Regions from separate parts of the Homo sapiens genome. Here region 2 is linked to region 1. The links come from fine-mapping of genetic effects on gene expression. A gene starts in region 1. The other region holds a variant in brackets. All regions are shown on one strand. Distances are from middle to middle. Region 1 holds the start of TSC2 (TSC complex subunit 2). Region 2 overlaps TSC2 (TSC complex subunit 2).

What was found.
Region 2: its variant is fine-mapped to the expression of TSC2 in tibial nerve (GTEx, PIP above 0.99).

Annotation. Positions count from the first base shown.
Region 1 is chr16:2,044,621-2,052,620 of GRCh38, forward strand. It overlaps TSC2 (TSC complex subunit 2), which reads left to right and starts at 3,365. Exons shown (of 42, transcript NM_000548.5): 1 at 3,365-3,445; 2 at 3,967-4,133; 3 at 5,780-5,866. The coding sequence starts at 3,996. It overlaps NTHL1 (nth like DNA glycosylase 1), which reads right to left and starts at 3,214. Exons shown (of 6, transcript NM_002528.7): 1 at 3,089-3,214; 2 at 1,508-1,746; 3 at 10-180. The coding sequence starts at 3,203. RefSeq lists enhancers at 2,618-3,117, 2,709-2,768, 3,219-3,308 and a silencer at 3,399-3,628.
Region 2 is chr16:2,075,539-2,083,538 of GRCh38, forward strand. It overlaps TSC2 (TSC complex subunit 2), which reads left to right. Exons shown (of 42, transcript NM_000548.5): 23 at 261-354; 24 at 530-632; 25 at 953-1,047; 26 at 2,060-2,188; 27 at 3,494-3,658; 28 at 3,738-3,890; 29 at 4,019-4,131; 30 at 4,627-4,839; 31 at 6,057-6,260; 32 at 6,898-6,966. Among named protein-coding and RNA genes, the nearest start is that of MIR1225, 11 kb to the right of the region's middle. RefSeq lists an enhancer at 2,884-3,593. The variant C/G (reference allele first, on the strand shown) is at 3,075.

The DNA of each region.
Region 1 (8,000 bases):
AGGGCTCACCCTCCAGAAACCGACGGGGTAGATGAGCTTGCCCAGCGTGGCATCATCTGTCTGCAGGATGCTGTCCACCGTCAGGCCCCGCGCCCGCAGTCGCTGCATGGCGCCCGCCGTCACCTGGTCTTTGGTTTGGCTGGAGAGCATCAGTGACAGCAGCACCTGGTACCTGCGTACCTGCTTGTGCAGTGACAGGGACCGGGGTGGCGGCGGGTCCTGGGTGATTCCCTGGCCAGGCTCCGCCCCCCGCCCTCGACACACCCTGGTTTGTTGCCCTGGGCCACACTTGAGGCATCAGCCTCCCCCTGTGGGGTGGGGAGGTCTGGTTTGGGTATGTTTGGTCATCTACAACACCAGGACAATAATAGTACCTGACTCACTGGAGTAATGTGAAGCTTAAATGAATTATCTCAGTGCTTAGAATCGTATGTGGCCGGGCGTGGTGGCTCGCACCCGTCATCCCAGCACTTCGGGAGGCCAAGGCAGGCGGATCACCTGAAGTCAGGAGTTTGAGACCAGCCTGATCAACGTGGTGAAACCCCGTCTCTACTAAAAATACAAACATTAGCTGGGTGCGGTGGTGCATGCCTGTAATCCCAGCTACTCGGGAGGCCGAGGCAGGAGAATAATTTGAACCTCGGAGGCGAAGGTTGCAGTGAGCTAAGATTTCACCACTGCACTCCAGCCTGGGCAACAAGAGCAAGACTTGGTCTCAAAAAAAAACCCAACACGATCGTATCTGGCCCATCACTACTGAACAGCCATTGGCCACTACTATTATGATTGCTTCGTGAATCATCACACTACCCTTTAAAACAAATTTTTTTTTTTGAGATGCAGTATCACTCTTTCACCCAGGCTGAAGTGTGGTGGTGCCATCTTGGCTCACTGCAACCTCCGCCTCCGGGGTTCAAGCGATTTTCCTGCCTCGCCCTCCTAAGTAGCTGGGGTTACAGGTGCCTGCCACCACACCTGGCTAATTTTTGTATTTTTAGTAGAGACGTGGTTTCGCCACATTGGCCAGGCTGGTCTCGAACTCCTGACCTCAGGTGATCCACCCGCCTTGGCCTCCCGAAGTGCTGGGATTACAGGCCTGAACCACCATGCCTGGCCCATACTACCCATTTTACAGACAAGCAAACTGAGGCTCAGAGAGGCCTGTATCCAAGCCACCTGGTAGCAGAATAGGGATTAGAACTCAGCTTGGTCTAAGGGTTTCAGGCCCTGGGACCGTGAAGCAAAAGGAACTCTTCCTTCCTGATATCACACAAAGCCCAGGTCACGCCTGCACTGGGCAGAAGTTCGAGCACGAGGCCCTAAACCACTGGTGTCCTGACCTGCTGAGTGGCTACAGTGATGCAGGCGATGCTCTGGGGCACCGGGTGTCCATCCTCCCAAGGTGCTGTCTGCAGGGGAGGGTGCCAGCCAAAAGCCACCGGGTAGAAAGAAAACAAGGACCTTGCTAAGATGGGGGGTCATCTGGGCAGATGGGGCCCCTGCCTACCTTTGGGGGGGCACTGGAGTCATAGCAGTGCTCAGTCCCCAGATGGTCCACAGGTGCATCCTTTTTGTTCCTCATGGCACGGATGTTGACCAGCTGTTGCTGCCAGTCCTGGGGCTCCCAGACTGGCACCTTGAGGGGCTCAGCCCCCTCACCTTTCTCACTGTCCGAGCCCTCATAGGCCACACGCAGTCTCTGTGCTTTCCGCGGACGCTTCACGGGGCTGTGGCTTTTCCTCGCTTCTGCAAAAAGCACCACGCAGTCCCTCTGGTGGGGCCACAGGTGAAGGTAGGGTAGGGGTGCCATCCCGCCTGCTAGCTCACCCCTCACTCGTTCATGCCACAACTGTCCATCATCTAATACACTTGGGGTGCTCTGCCCTCTGCAGTCTGGGGTATGTGGGCCCTCCTTATGCCAGCGACCCTGACAAGGTCCATGTTAGCTCATGAGGACTCTAGCAACAGCCTGTACCAAGGTGCCCCCAATACATCTTCTATACTGCACCAGAGACAGTCTGCTAACACCCACATCAGGTTGTGTCACTCCCTTTTAAAAAATCCTGGCCGGCCGGGCGCGGTGGATCAAGCCTGTAATCCCAGCACTTTGGGAGGCCGAGGTGGGTGGATCACTTGAGGTCAGGAGTTCAAGACCAGCCTGGCCAATATGGCAAAACCCCATCTCTACTAAAAATACAAAAGTTAGCCGGGTGTGGTGGCAGGGGCCTATAGTCTCAGCTACTTGGGAGGCTGAGGCAGGAGAACTGCTTGAACCTGGGGGGCGGAGGTTGCAGTGAGCTGAGATCACAACACTCCACTACAGCCTGGGTGACAGAGCAAGACCCGATCTCAAAACAAACAACAAAACCTCCTAATTGACTTCCGTTTACTGTCATAATAAACTCCAAACTCTATCCTGGCATCAAAGCTCCTGCCACCCTGGCTGGCATCACCACCTGCCTGCTCCCAGCTGCACCAGTTCCTCCTGACATAGTCTGGACTACCCCTGGGGTCCCTGGGTGCCTATGGGAATCCAGCTCTGGCCAATTCTGCAGAAGTCCCAGCGGGACTAGCGCAGAGGCCCTGTCCGTGTCCCTCACTGCTCACTGCAGTGCTTGGCCCCCAGCAGGTCCTCAACGGCTGCAGGATAAATATAATAAGTGCCATGCCCTTTCCTGTTTTCCCTCAGAGGCACCCTCCCCCGAGCTGGGGGAGCAGGCTTCTGGCTGCGTGTGTCCTTGGCACCCAGCCTCTCCGAGGACAGCAAGTTCACTGCAGGAGGGCGGGGATGGGACCCACAGAGCCTGGAGTGGAGAGTCCCGGACAGAGTGGTGGGAAAGGAAGCGTTTTCTTGCTTGGGGCGAAAGGGGGCAGCGGAGCGGAGCGCCCGAAACCCAGCCCCTGCGGACCGCAATCTTTGGGAAAAAGGCGCAAGGTGGGAACGCAGGGCCGCACGTGGGAACCGTTCGCGGCTGCCGGGTTTGCAGCCCCTGCCCGCGCAGCTGGGAGCCGCAGGAGGCGGCCCGGGACTCCAGCCTGCAGCCCCTATCCCGCCTCCTCCCACGCTCCAGCCACGGCGCGGCGCTACCTGCTGCAGCCTCTCTTCTCCGGAGAGGCCCGGGCTCCTCCCTACACCCCCGCGGCCCAGCCCCGGGTCCCAGGCTCCGGCTCCGGGTCAGCATCCTCGCGCTCAAGGCGGTCATGCCGGACTCCTGCGGACTACACATCCCGGCGGCCCATGCGGCCCCGTCACGTGATGCAAGGATCGCCGGCCTTTCCGCCAGAGGGCGGCACAGAACTACAACTCCCAGCAAGCTCCCAAGGCGGCCCTCCGCGCAATGCCGCTACCGGAAGTGCGGGTCGCGCTTCCGGCGGCGTCCCGGGGCCAGGGGGGTGCGCCTTTCTCCGCGTCGGGGCGGCCCGGAGCGCGGTGGCGCGGCGCGGGGTAAGTGGCGGTCCCCACGGGGCAAGTGGCGGTCCCCACGGGGCAGCGGCCTAGAGAGGCGGACCCCGCAGTGTCCGGGTCCCGGGCCCTCACCCGCGCCCACTGCAACCCGACTCCGGAGCTCCGAGCATCCCTTAGTTTTAAGTCATGGCGGGTGCGAACGGGTCTCTGCTGCAGGCGGCTCCGTGACAGCTCCTGCTTCACATGGGTAGAGGAGAGACGGCAAACGTCGGGGCTCCCAGGACTTCGCGGCGGCAGTCCTAACCCGTGCACTGAGTCGGGCGGGGCGGGCGGCAGCGTCTGAGTAGAGAGCTCTCTAGACCAGGCCTGGTGTCTCCCGGGCTTTCCTAGGTGCCTGTTTGCGAGCTGGTCAGCTGGGCTGTAGTTGAGTTCTCCCAGGGAGTGTGGGAGGAAAGGTTATGCCCACCAGAGACCCAGGGTCCTGACGGCTGGAGGTCCGCAGTGGGGAAGGTGGGCAGAGGTGTTGCTCAGATGTCCCCATTCCTGTTTCGTTTGCACAGAGGGGTTTTCTGGTGCGTCCTGGTCCACCATGGCCAAACCAACAAGCAAAGATTCAGGCTTGAAGGAGAAGTTTAAGATTCTGTTGGGACTGGGAACACCGAGGCCAAATCCCAGGTCTGCAGAGGGTAAACAGACGGAGTTTATCATCACCGCGGAAATACTGAGAGTGAGTGAGCTACCTGTGTCTTTGCTAGGCTAGAGGGAAATGCAGAGAAGGCTGGGTTTGGTCTTGCACCAGGTTCTGTGGGAGACGGGTTGCTGGCAACTGTCTACACAGGAATGCTGTCTCCAGTACTTGGAGGCCGACATGTCCTTCCTCAGGAGACTTCGAAAGTCAGGATCTTGGTGACCTGGTTCAGGCACACTTGAGTTACTATTCAGATGTTGATGAAAGAAAGCCCATCTTATAGATGAGGCCTGAGTATCATCATCTTCACAGGTAAGGATATGTCCAGGTGTTACATGATAAGATGTGAGTTCCTGGGAGAAGTAGGTTCTTTATTTTATTTTTTTTTTGAGACTGAGTCTTGCTCTGTTGCCTAGGCTGGAGTGCAGTGGCACAATCTCTGCTCGCTGCTACCTCTGCCTCCCAGTTTCAAGTGGTTCTCCTGCCTCAGCCTCCTGAGTAGCTGGGACTACAGACACGTGCCACCACACCCATTTAATTTTTGTATTTTTAGTAGAGATGGAGTTTCACTATCTTGGCCAGGCTGGTCTTGAACTGCTGACCTCAGGTGATCTGCCCGCTTTGGCCTCCCAAAGTGCTGGGATTACAGGCATGAGCCATCGCACATGGGCTAGGTCGTTATCTTTTATGTGTGTTTGTGTCTTTGTCACACATGCCTGGCATTGTGTTTTGCCCATGAGTAAATGCTGAATTTTTGCACTTGTAAAGTTTTCTACTTAGAAACAACTAAAACGTTCATCAACTGATGAATAAAATATAGTCCATCCTGGCTGGGTGCGGTGGCTCACGCCTGTCATCCCAGCACTTTGGGAGGCCGAGGCGGGTGGATCACCTGAGGTCAGGAGTTTGAGACCAGCCTGGCCAACATGGCGAAACCCCGTCTCTACTAAAAATACCAAAAATTAGCCGGTCATAGTGGTGGGCGCCTGTAATTCCAGCTACTCGGGGGGCTGAGACGAGAATTGCTTGAACCCGGGAGGCGGAGGTTTCAGTGAGCCGTGATCGCGCCACTGCACTCCATCCTGGGGAAGAAGAGCAAAACTCCGTCTAAAAAAAAATTGTGCAGTTTGAAATTGTATTTCATGTTATGTTTTATCTCAATACAACATTTGCAGTTGTGAAAAAAAATTGCACATTCTCAACTCCTCGGGATGGAGCAGTAAAGCCCCTCAGTAAATCTTTTTTTTTTTTTTTTTTTGAGACCGAGTTTCGCTCTTGTCACCCAGGCTGGAGCGCAGGGGCGCGATCTCGGCTCACTGCAATCTCCGCCTCCTGGGTTCAAGGGATTCTCCTGCCTCACTCTCCCGAGTAGCTGGGATTATAGACGCCCACCACCACGCCCAGCAAATTTTTTGTATTTTTAGTAGAGACAGGGTTTCATCATGTTGGGCAGGCTGGTCTCAAACTCCTGACCTCTGGTGATCCACCTGCCTTGGCCCCCCAAAGTGCAGGGATTACAGGCCTGAGCCACCGCGGCTCGTCAAGTGAATCTTGATTCCAGAAAGATCTGTTTTAAGTCTCTAGTCTGGAAAATGCAGTGGGAGTCTTTAGGTGGTTTGTGACTTGCAGTTAAGGAGACCGTGGCCTGAGCACTGGCCCCTTTTTCTTCTTTCATCTCTCTCCAGGAACTGAGCATGGAATGTGGCCTCAACAATCGCATCCGGATGATAGGGCAGATTTGTGAAGTCGCAAAAACCAAGAAATTTGAAGAGGTAGGTTTATCCAGTTGAGCTACTAGAGAGAGGCACGTAGACTATTCAGAGCCTGAGTTTGCTTTTTTTAGGAACATGGTTGACAGCTGACTGCCGATGATCTGGTTTGCACTTTTTTTTTTTTTTTTTTTTTGAGATGGAGTCTTGCTCTGTCGCCCAGGCTGGCACAATCTTGGCTCACTGCAGCCTCTGCCTCCTGGGTTCAAGCAGTTCTCCTGCCTCAGCCTCCTGAGTAGCTGGGATTACAGGCACGCGCCACCACACCCGGCTTTTTGTATTTTTAGTAGAGACGGGGTTTCGCCATGTTGGCCAGGCTGGTCTTGAACTCCTGACCTCGTGAACCATATGCCTCAGCCTCCCAAAGTGCTGGGATTACAGGCGTGAGCCACTGCGCCCAGCCAGTTTGCACTGTTTTAGGGGAATTTAGCTTTCATCGTAGTGATGGGGAAGCTACTGGAAATGCCCCGAATACAACCTTGAGGGACCAATCAAGCGTGGAAATGGGGAGCAAAGGGATTAGGCTTTTCTAGCAACACCAGAAAGGATTTCTATGCCGAGCGGGGGTGCGGGGGCTTATGCCTGTAATCCTAGGACTTTGGGAGGCCGAGGTGGGTGGATCACGAGGTCAGGAGTTCAAGACCACTCTGGCCAACATGGCGAAACCCCGTCTGTACTAAAAGATGATGAGCCGGGCATGGTGGCACATGCCTGTAATCCCAGCTACTTGGGAGGCTGAGGCAGGAGAATCGCTTGAACCCGGGAGGCACAGGTTGCAGTGAGCCGAGATCGCCCCACTGCACTCCAGTCTGGGTGACGGAGCAAGACTCTGTCTCAAAAAAAAAAAAAAGGAAGAGTTTGTAGTGGCTGATAGAAACGCATGCTCACTCGCTCTCTCCTGTTACAAGTTCAGGCCAAGAAAAATCAAGAAAGGGTTTGTTCCACAGAGAACAATCCTAGGCACGCTGGTCTTGGTGCCATTTTGGGAGGGTGACTGGTCGGTGGTATTGGGCGACCTCACGGACATAGAAATATTTATTTTGGGCAAACATTGCCAGACTTTCCTGATGACTTGTGGACAGGACAGGAAGTGGTCATTTTGGGAGTGCAGGTTGCTGGTAGAGCACCTGAGGGCTCTGCCCTTGCCTTGCCCAGCATTTGTGTGTGGGAGAGCAGTGAGACCTGGACCTCTCATGCTCAGATCTGCTAAGAGGAGAGTGATTGCTACCTCTGCAGCAGCTCATCTGAAACGTGCTGGCCGTACGCTACCAAAGATAGGTGTAAAGAACAGGTGTCCTTAGCCGGGCGCAGTGGTTCACGCCTGTAATCCCAGCACTTTGGGAGGCCAAGGTGGATGGATCACCTGAGGTGAGGAGTTCGAGACCCGCCTGGCCAATGTGGCAAAACCCTGTTTCTACTAAAGATACAAAAATTAGCTGGGCATGGTGTCGGGCACCTGTAATCCCAGCTACTTGGGAGGCTGAGGGAGGAGAATCGCTTAAACTCAGGAGGCAGAGGTTGTGGTGAGCTGAGATTGTGCCATTGCACTGCAGCCTGGGCAACAGAGCAAGACTGTCTCAGAAAACAAAAAAAAGAACAAGCGTCCTGCATCCTGTTCTGAAAGTTGTTTGTGTGGGTACGGGGCAGCCTGTGAGTGGATAAATAGGCCTCCGAGGCTGGGATGGTCCCGGGCCCTGTGTCCACGGATCTTTGCAGCTCAGGTTGCAACGGTAAGAGTATTGTCAATGAGACAAAGGAGGTGAGAGTGCCAGTTGTCTGAATTGGTTGGGATGTTGGTCAGATGACATCTAAAAGAACACGGCCATTTTGTTATTATTTGGTTAGAGACAAGGTCTCACTCTGTCACCCAGGCCGGGGTGCAGTGTCACAATCATGGCTCACTACAGCCTCAACCTGCCAGGCTCACGTGATCCTCCTACTTTAGCCTCTCAAGTAGCTGGGACTACAGGCATGCAGCACCACGCCTGGCTAAGTTTTGTATTTTTTGTCGTGACAGGGTCTCACTGTGTTGCCCAGGCTAGTCTGAAACTCCTGGGCTGACGTGACCCTCTCCCCTCTGCCACCCGAAGTGCTGAGATTACAGGTGTGAGCCACCGCACTTGGCCAGAACACGGCC
Region 2 (8,000 bases), 31 kb after region 1:
AAAAAAAAAAAAGAGGTGCGGAAGCCTTTCCTCACGGATCACACAAATGGTAGGCGACAGCTCGAATTGGCCCAGAAGCTGTGGTTGGCTGGCCATGGGACCGAGAGTTGAGGCCAGGGTCGGGAAAGCCACGTCCGTGTGGCCGTGGCCTTCTCTCCTCTGCAGCACCCCATCGCTGCCGTGGGCAGAGCAGCCGTGTTGGCCTTCAGAGGCGCTGCACGGGACCCCGGCTCCCCTGACCACCCTCTCCATTACCGCAGCTCTGGCCAGGCTGCCGCACCTCTACAGGAACTTTGCCGCGGAGCAGTATGCCAGTGTGTTCGCCATCTCCCTGCCGTACACCAACCCCTCCAAGTGAGTGGTCGCCCCAGGCCCTGTGCCTCCCAGCCGTGGCCCCCGCTAGGCCTTGCGGCAGAAAGCCCCGGCAGCCTTTGTCCCCAAGGCCTGAGCGCCTCGGTTTTTTGCACTTCATGCCCTGGGGATGTTTCCCTGCTGCCAGGATGGAGTGCCAGCCCCCTTCTCATCTCAGGTTTAATCAGTACATCGTGTGTCTGGCCCATCACGTCATAGCCATGTGGTTCATCAGGTGCCGCCTGCCCTTCCGGAAGGATTTTGTCCCTTTCATCACTAAGGTGGGCTCAGGGCCGGTGAAGGCTGTGTCTCTCGGTAGGCCAGGGCTTGCTTTGCCCTTGGCTGTCCATGGTCGGGCAGAGTGACAGGCAGGTGGAGGGCAGTGGGAGGGTGTTTGGGGCTGTGCCTGTGGCGCTGGGGGCTCTGCTGGGCAGCCTGCAGGGCTTTGATGCGCGGCAGGCATTGAGGGGTGGGAGCTGGGTGCCGCCGCCTTGCCCCTAGCCTGCAGCTTGTCCCTGGCCAGGGGGCACCCGGCAGGCCTGGTGAGGGCCTCCAGCCCCCATTGCCACCCCTCACTGTCTGGGTGTGCTCACTCTGCCAGGGCCTGCGGTCCAATGTCCTCTTGTCTTTTGATGACACCCCCGAGAAGGACAGCTTCAGGGCCCGGAGTACTAGTCTCAACGAGAGACCCAAGAGGTACGGCCTGCGGGGGTGTGCCTGGAGTCGGTGTGGGGTGGGGAAGGACATGGGGCTGTGGCCTGCCTGACGGTGCCTCCAAGTCAGTGAGTGGAAATGGGTCCTGTGTGCCCTGGAGTATGTGAGGCAGGGCAGGACCTGCAAGGGCCGCTAACACCCCTCAGCCCCTCAGCAGGTTGGCCGTGGTGGCCTGGGTCCGGGCTGCGTGTGCCACGGGCACCTACTTGTGGAATTGGGGGTTGGGGTGCAAGCTTTAGGCGCCTGAGCCCCTCGAAGGAGCCGGCCTTGTCTGGGGCTGCCCCCTCCTCTGCAGCCCCCAGCCTGCTGCTAGCCGGGGACTCTGCTTCATCACCGCCGCCTTGCCGGACCGCAAAGAGCTGAGCCAGCCTCTGTGTTCTTGTTTGCATTTCATTTGAACGGCTTTCTCCTCCTGTCCCCCACCTTCCTGCCCGAGCTATTTTGGCTTTCCCTAGATGGGAATACGGCATTTTCCAGCGTGACCTCAACTCGGAAGCTGTTGTCTCCAGCCCCTGGGGGCCGGGGGCCAAGCTCGGCCATTACGGCCAGAGACTACTTTCTGGGGTCTTGGTCTCTTTTCCTAGTGACCTTCAGGGCCTGGCCACTGAGGCCTCAGTGCCGCCTCGGTCAGAGCTGGGCGGTGCCTGCCTTCCGCGGGTGGGTGGGATTGCCTGGCCAGCACAGCCTGGAATCTGCCGTGGGGGTGACCCACACACGTTTAATTTGCACTGACGTTGTTTGTTTTGGTGTCATGCGTGAAGCCTTACTTGTTCTCAGTCATGTTTACCAGACGTATTATCATGCATTTTTGTTTTCTGTCTCTTCCCCGCTAACTGCCCTTTGGCATGGCTCTTTTTGCTCATCTCACCCGCGGGATCTCTCCATCCTGACCCTGTGGCCTGGGACCTTTCCTCCTCACCCCTCCACTGGCTTGTTCTCCCCTTCCCGGGAGCTGGGCTCTCTGGGGCGTTGGGGCTCCTTCCTCACCCGATAGTCTGAGGATAGCCAGACCCCCCAAACAAGGCTTGAATAACTCTCCACCCGTGAAAGAATTCAAGGAGAGCTCTGCAGCCGAGGCCTTCCGGTGCCGCAGCATCAGTGTGTCTGAACATGTGGTCCGCAGGTAGCGGGACTGTCGGGTGGGGGGCACGGACCCTGGAGCTTGGCCCCGTGAGCACCTGGGTGGCAGTGCATGGGGCTGCTTGCATGACCTCATCGTCTGCCCGTGTCCTCCCTGGCCAGCCCAGGGGGAGCCGGTGACGAGGGGTGGAAAGGTTGCATTCTGTCCCCAGGCCCCGTATGAGCACGGGCTGGTTGCACGCATCCCCAGGCCCCCTCGGGGTGCCGCTCCGAGAGAGCCAGGCGTGCCGGGCAGCAGCCTCCCCAGGCTGTCCCCAAGGGCCGCAGTGTGGGTTGGGGGAGACACCACTCCTGGTTTTGGCCTTTTCGTATTCTCTAGAATGGACGTTTTTCTTCGGGCTTTCTTCTCAACAAGGTTTATTTTTTGTTGTAGCTGAAAGGGAACAAGGGGCATTTGTGGAGGGTGCTGGGGTGGGGCAGCCTGGGAGGGCCTGGGTGGGGGCTAGGATCCTGCAGGGCATGGGCATGGGCCTGGGCCCCAGGCCATGGTCTTAGTTCTCCCCGCAGTGTCTGGGTGCAGGTGTGGGCTCTCGGGCTCTCGGCTGTCACCTGCCTGTGGGTCATCGCTGCTGGCACTGGCAGAGGGGATACCTGTCTCCTCCTGGAAGCCCGTTGCAGGCCAAGGGGTCCCATGGCCCTCAGTCCATCCACCTCCTCACCTCAGGCCGGCCTCTGCTGGGTGGGACTTGGCCAGGGGTTGGGGTGGTAGAGGTGCTCGGTGAGGCTTAAAGCCATTTTCTAGCACATTCTGTATCATGAGCAAAATATTGCCTAGGGGCTATGAAATTTGTATCAGAATGAACTCCCATAAGCCTCTTCCCTGTCACTGGGTGTGGAGCTCAGGCAGCCGCTCGCCTGCCTGAGGGTGA[C/G]GGTGGAAGGCCACATGGGGATCCCAGACCTCTGTGTGCTTGCCGGAGGCAGCCTGCGGGCAGAATGCAATCTGGGCCTGTCTGTGTGGCCTCCGCCTCTCTGCATGACTACACCGTTTCGCCAGGAGGCCGTAACCTAGTGCTCCCGTGGGCTTCGGTGAGGGGGATGTCGGTCTCTAGCCTCCTGAGTCTGCTCCGACCAGTAGGCCTGGTCTTCCCCACCCAGCGTCTCCCCGTTCTCTGGGACAATGTGGTCCACGTGATTCTCAAGCTGAGGCTCGCTGGGCCGCCCACGCCCTGTTGGGGTCTTTCCGAGCGAGGTCCTCAGCCGTGCATGCGTTGAGCTTTGGCCCTTGGTGATAGGTGGCTCGGCCCGCCCTACCTGGCACCCTGACCCTGGTCACGGCCTCTCCCTCCAGCAGGATACAGACGTCCCTCACCAGTGCCAGCTTGGGGTCTGCAGATGAGAACTCCGTGGCCCAGGCTGACGATAGCCTGAAAAACCTCCACCTGGAGCTCACGGAAACCTGTCTGGACATGATGGCTCGATACGTCTTCTCCAACTTCACGGCTGTCCCGAAGAGGTCCAGGCGGCACTACAGGGCTGGGCGGGCCTGCGGGAGCTCCACGGGCAAGCTGGGTTTCACGCTCCCTGTCTTCTAGGTCTCCTGTGGGCGAGTTCCTCCTAGCGGGTGGCAGGACCAAAACCTGGCTGGTTGGGAACAAGCTTGTCACTGTGACGACAAGCGTGGGAACCGGGACCCGGTCGTTACTAGGCCTGGACTCGGGGGAGCTGCAGTCCGGCCCGGAGTCGAGGTGACTGCACCTTCCTTTCCTCCGCGCCTGCCAGCCTCGACACCGGCTGTCCCGAGCCCAGGCCCACGTGGCACCCTCGTACCAGCCTGGGGACTAAGTCCACCCTGTGCGTGGGATTCTCTTCTCAGCTCCAGCCCCGGGGTGCATGTGAGACAGACCAAGGAGGCGCCGGCCAAGCTGGAGTCCCAGGCTGGGCAGCAGGTGTCCCGTGGGGCCCGGGATCGGGTCCGTTCCATGTCGGGTGAGCCTTGGCCCCAGCCACCTCCACACAGGCACCGGGGCTCCCTCAGTTGCTGCTGGTCCCAGTGTTCAGGAAGGCCCCGAGCCCAGGGGCCGGGGTGGCTGGCTTCAGGCCCGGCCCACGTCCTGACTCTGGGGTGAGCCTTCCACAGCTCACCCCAGAGCCGTGGAGTGGTGGAGTGTGGCCCGCTTGCTGCAGAGGGGCCTGCTCTGGGTGCTGGTGTTTCCTGCGGGTTTTCAGCTCGGCTCAGTCCTGGAGCCCTTCTCTGCTCCAGCGAGCCGTGGTCTGACTGCAGGACAGGTTCTGGGTCCCTCCCTGTGGCCCTGGGTTCACTGAGGCCAGCACTGTGGTGGGCCGTGCCCCAAGGGCAGAGCTGCCACCGTCTCTGGCTGCCTGTGGCACTAGCTTGCCAGGCTCGGGGGGAGCATTCAGCTTGAGGCTGGTGGTTTTGCATCAGGTAAGTGGTGGTCACCAGTCCTCTGCCCTCTTCTTCAGGGGGCCATGGTCTTCGAGTTGGCGCCCTGGACGTGCCGGCCTCCCAGTTCCTGGGCAGTGCCACTTCTCCAGGACCACGGACTGCACCAGCCGCGAAACCTGAGAAGGCCTCAGCTGGCACCCGGGTTCCTGTGCAGGAGAAGACGAACCTGGCGGCCTATGTGCCCCTGCTGACCCAGGGCTGGGCGGAGATCCTGGTCCGGAGGCCCACAGGTACTGGGCGGGGCTGGCCTGAGCGCCATCTTTCTGCCAGTCACCCACAGAGCTGTGGACACTCAGGGGCGATTGCAGACTTGGCCCTCTTGGGATATTTGGGGGTAACTTTTGTTTTTTTTTTGAGACAGAGTCTTGCTCTGTGGCCCACGCTGGAACGCAGTGGCGCAATCTCGGCTCACTGCAAGCTCCACCTCCCGGGTTCACGCCATTCTCCTGCCTCAGCCTCCCGAGTAGCTGGGACCACAGGCGCCCGCCACCACGCCTGGCCAATTTTTTTGTATTTCTAGTAGAGATGGGGTTTCACTGTGTTAGCCAGGATGGTCTCAATCTCCTGACCTCGTGATCCGCCCGCCTTGGCCTCCCAAAGTGCTGGGATTACAGGCGTGAGCCACCGCGCCCAGCCATTTGGGGGTAACTTGTAAGTCTCCAGAGGTGAGCTGTGAGGGGCGATCCAGGTGGCTGAGGTGGGGCAGGGGCCTGTGGCGAACCAAGTGACTTCCATGGCAGAGAGTTGCCCTCCCCGCCTGGAGGCTGCAAGTCCGAGACCAAGGTGCTCCTCGGCAGGAGGTGCTCCTCAGAGGCCTCAATCCTTGGCATGCAGTTGGTTTTTTCCCTGTGTCCTCACAGGCTCTTTCCTGGATGTCTGCGTGTTAATCTCCTCTTGGGAGGAAACCGGTCATGGCTTAGGGTCCGCTCTGGTCCCTTGCTAGCCGTAATTAGCTTTCTGAAACCCAGTCTCCAGAGACAGTCCCGTTCTGAGTTCCTGGGGTTGGGACTAAAGCATACCAACATGGGGGCACAGCTCAGCCTGTTCCCAGGGGCAGAGGGAGCCCCCGCAGAGGCCCAGAGCCCAGGGACAGAGGGAGGCCTTTGCAGAGGCCCAGAGCCCAGGGGCGCCTGGGTGTGCCGTGGCTGAGGGGTGCAAAGAGTAGGGGTTCCAGCCCTCGTGGAGGCCTTGGGTCCGGACTGTGAGGCTGTGGGCTGGAGGCCGCTGCTCTGAGGTGCCTGGCGGAGCCTGGCCTCGAGGCAGGGGCTGAGCGGGGCAGCAGGGTGGGTGGCCGTCAGAGCAGCGCTGGCTCCGACATCGTGGTCCTGAGGATTGTGGGAGGGAGCATGAGGGCAAAACCAGGGCCCAGGCCAGGAGGCCCCTGGGGGGCCAGAGATGGGTAAGGGGAGGTACTGGCCTCAGGCCAAAGGTGCTGCCGCCTCCGCAGGGAACACCAGCTGGCTGATGAGCCTGGAGAACCCGCTCAGCCCTTTCTCCTCGGACATCAACAACATGCCCCTGCAGGAGCTGTCTAACGCCCTCATGGCGGCTGAGCGCTTCAAGGAGCACCGGGACACAGCCCTGTACAAGTCACTGTCGGTGCCGGCAGCCAGCACGGCCAAACCCCCTCCTCTGCCTCGCTCCAACACAGGTGAGTGGCATGGCGGGCCTTGGCACGGGCTCTGCTCCCACTGGCCTGGTGCTCCCGGTGACGGCAATGTGGCTCCTCTCTGCTGAGGGCGCCCACACGGCTGGGAGTGGTCCCTGGCCTGCCTCAGCACCATTGTTCTCCGGTGTTTGGGAGGAGGCTGACCCGTGGGAGGTGTCTGCCCTGCTCAGGAAGCTGGGGCTGGCAGCTTCAGAAGCAGTAGGGGCCCTGTGGAGCCTCTGCCCAGCATCCTCCGTGGGGAGTCCAGCACTGCGGGCTCCAGGAGGCTCTGCGGCAGCCTCCCTCCCTGCCTGGGCCCAGGTTTGGACACCTGAGCCCGCCTGCGCACTCTGGGCCCCCACCCCACTCGGCACCGTGCTTCTCGCCAGGCCCTCTGGCTCTTCCCTGTGGCTGCAGATGGCACTTAGCGGCCTAGGACGTCTATTCACGGGAGGAGGGAGGCACTGCCCTCCTCAGGTCTGCCCAAGCAGCTTGTAGCTAGCACTGGGCCCCGTGCGCGCCCCTGCCGGCCGCTGGCCCTGCCCTCTCTCCTCTGCAGGCACGGGGCCTGTGCTCTCTGCTCGACCTGTGTGTAGCCCCTCCTCCTGCTGACGTGGCCGCACACGGCCTTCCCTTGCAGTGGCCTCTTTCTCCTCCCTGTACCAGTCCAGCTGCCAAGGACAGCTGCACAGGAGCGTTTCCTGGGCAGGTATCGCCTCTCAGAGGGAAGCGGTTGGCTGCAGAGCGCCACTCTGCCTCATAGGTGCTGTGCTCGTCGCCTCATCCGCCCACCCCCATGGTCCGTCTGCCTCCATTGCCCTGGGGAGCAGGTCCCGACTCGCATGAGGACGTCTGTGCAGAATGTCTTTGGCTTGGCCAGCGGGATCCCCTTGACTTGGTCCCTTTGTGGCTGAGCCCTGTTCCCACGCTGTGCGAGCACTCCCGGCCCAGCTTCAGGCCTGAGGGGTGGGGGTGGCCTGAGTCTCCATGGTGACATCAGCTGAGCTGCAGACTCTGATGGGTGGCAGCTGTTTAGGGGGAAGCCCACCCCTGGGCCTGCACCGAGCGGGCCTTGCCCTGGCCTTTGGTGGCTCCCCTGGCCTCTGGAACCCACAGATGGGGCTGCCTCAAGTCCCAGGTTGACCAGGGGCCCTGCAGACCGACCTCTGCCTGTTGCCCCCAAGCCCTGGTGGGGAGTGCTGTGACCTGCATGGTGCTCCCCTGCCAGGTCTCCACGTGCAGACGAGCTGGTTTGGAAGGGCTGCGTGGGACGGGCCCTGGGGTGGCTGACTGCGCGTGTGCAGGGCTGTGGGGCGCCCGGGGGCTGTGATGGTCCCCTCTGTTGCTGCTTCTACTTCCTCTCCCCCTGTCCTGACGCTGGCACAGGAAATGCTGCTTTGGGACCTCCCACCCTCTCTCCTTAGCGTCCCCAGCTGTGGGTCTGGCTTGGAGTTGGAGGGTGAGCCTCTGCTCTTGGGAGCAGTCTGTTTGCAAACAGGGACTTCCCCCACGTCACGGAGTCTCCGCAGCTCTCCTCGGTTACGAGGGCTGGTTTCAGGCTCCCGCTCTTTTAGAGCTGAGGCCCGTCGGGCGGAGAGCGTCTTGCCCCTGCCTACCTGGAGGCACAGGGGTGGCTGCTGGTGGACACTAGGGTGGGCAGAGCCGATTGCCTGCCCAACCCCCGGGCACTCATGCAGGAGAGGCCTGTGTCGGGGTCACGTGCAGGCCTTCCCAGCGTCCTCC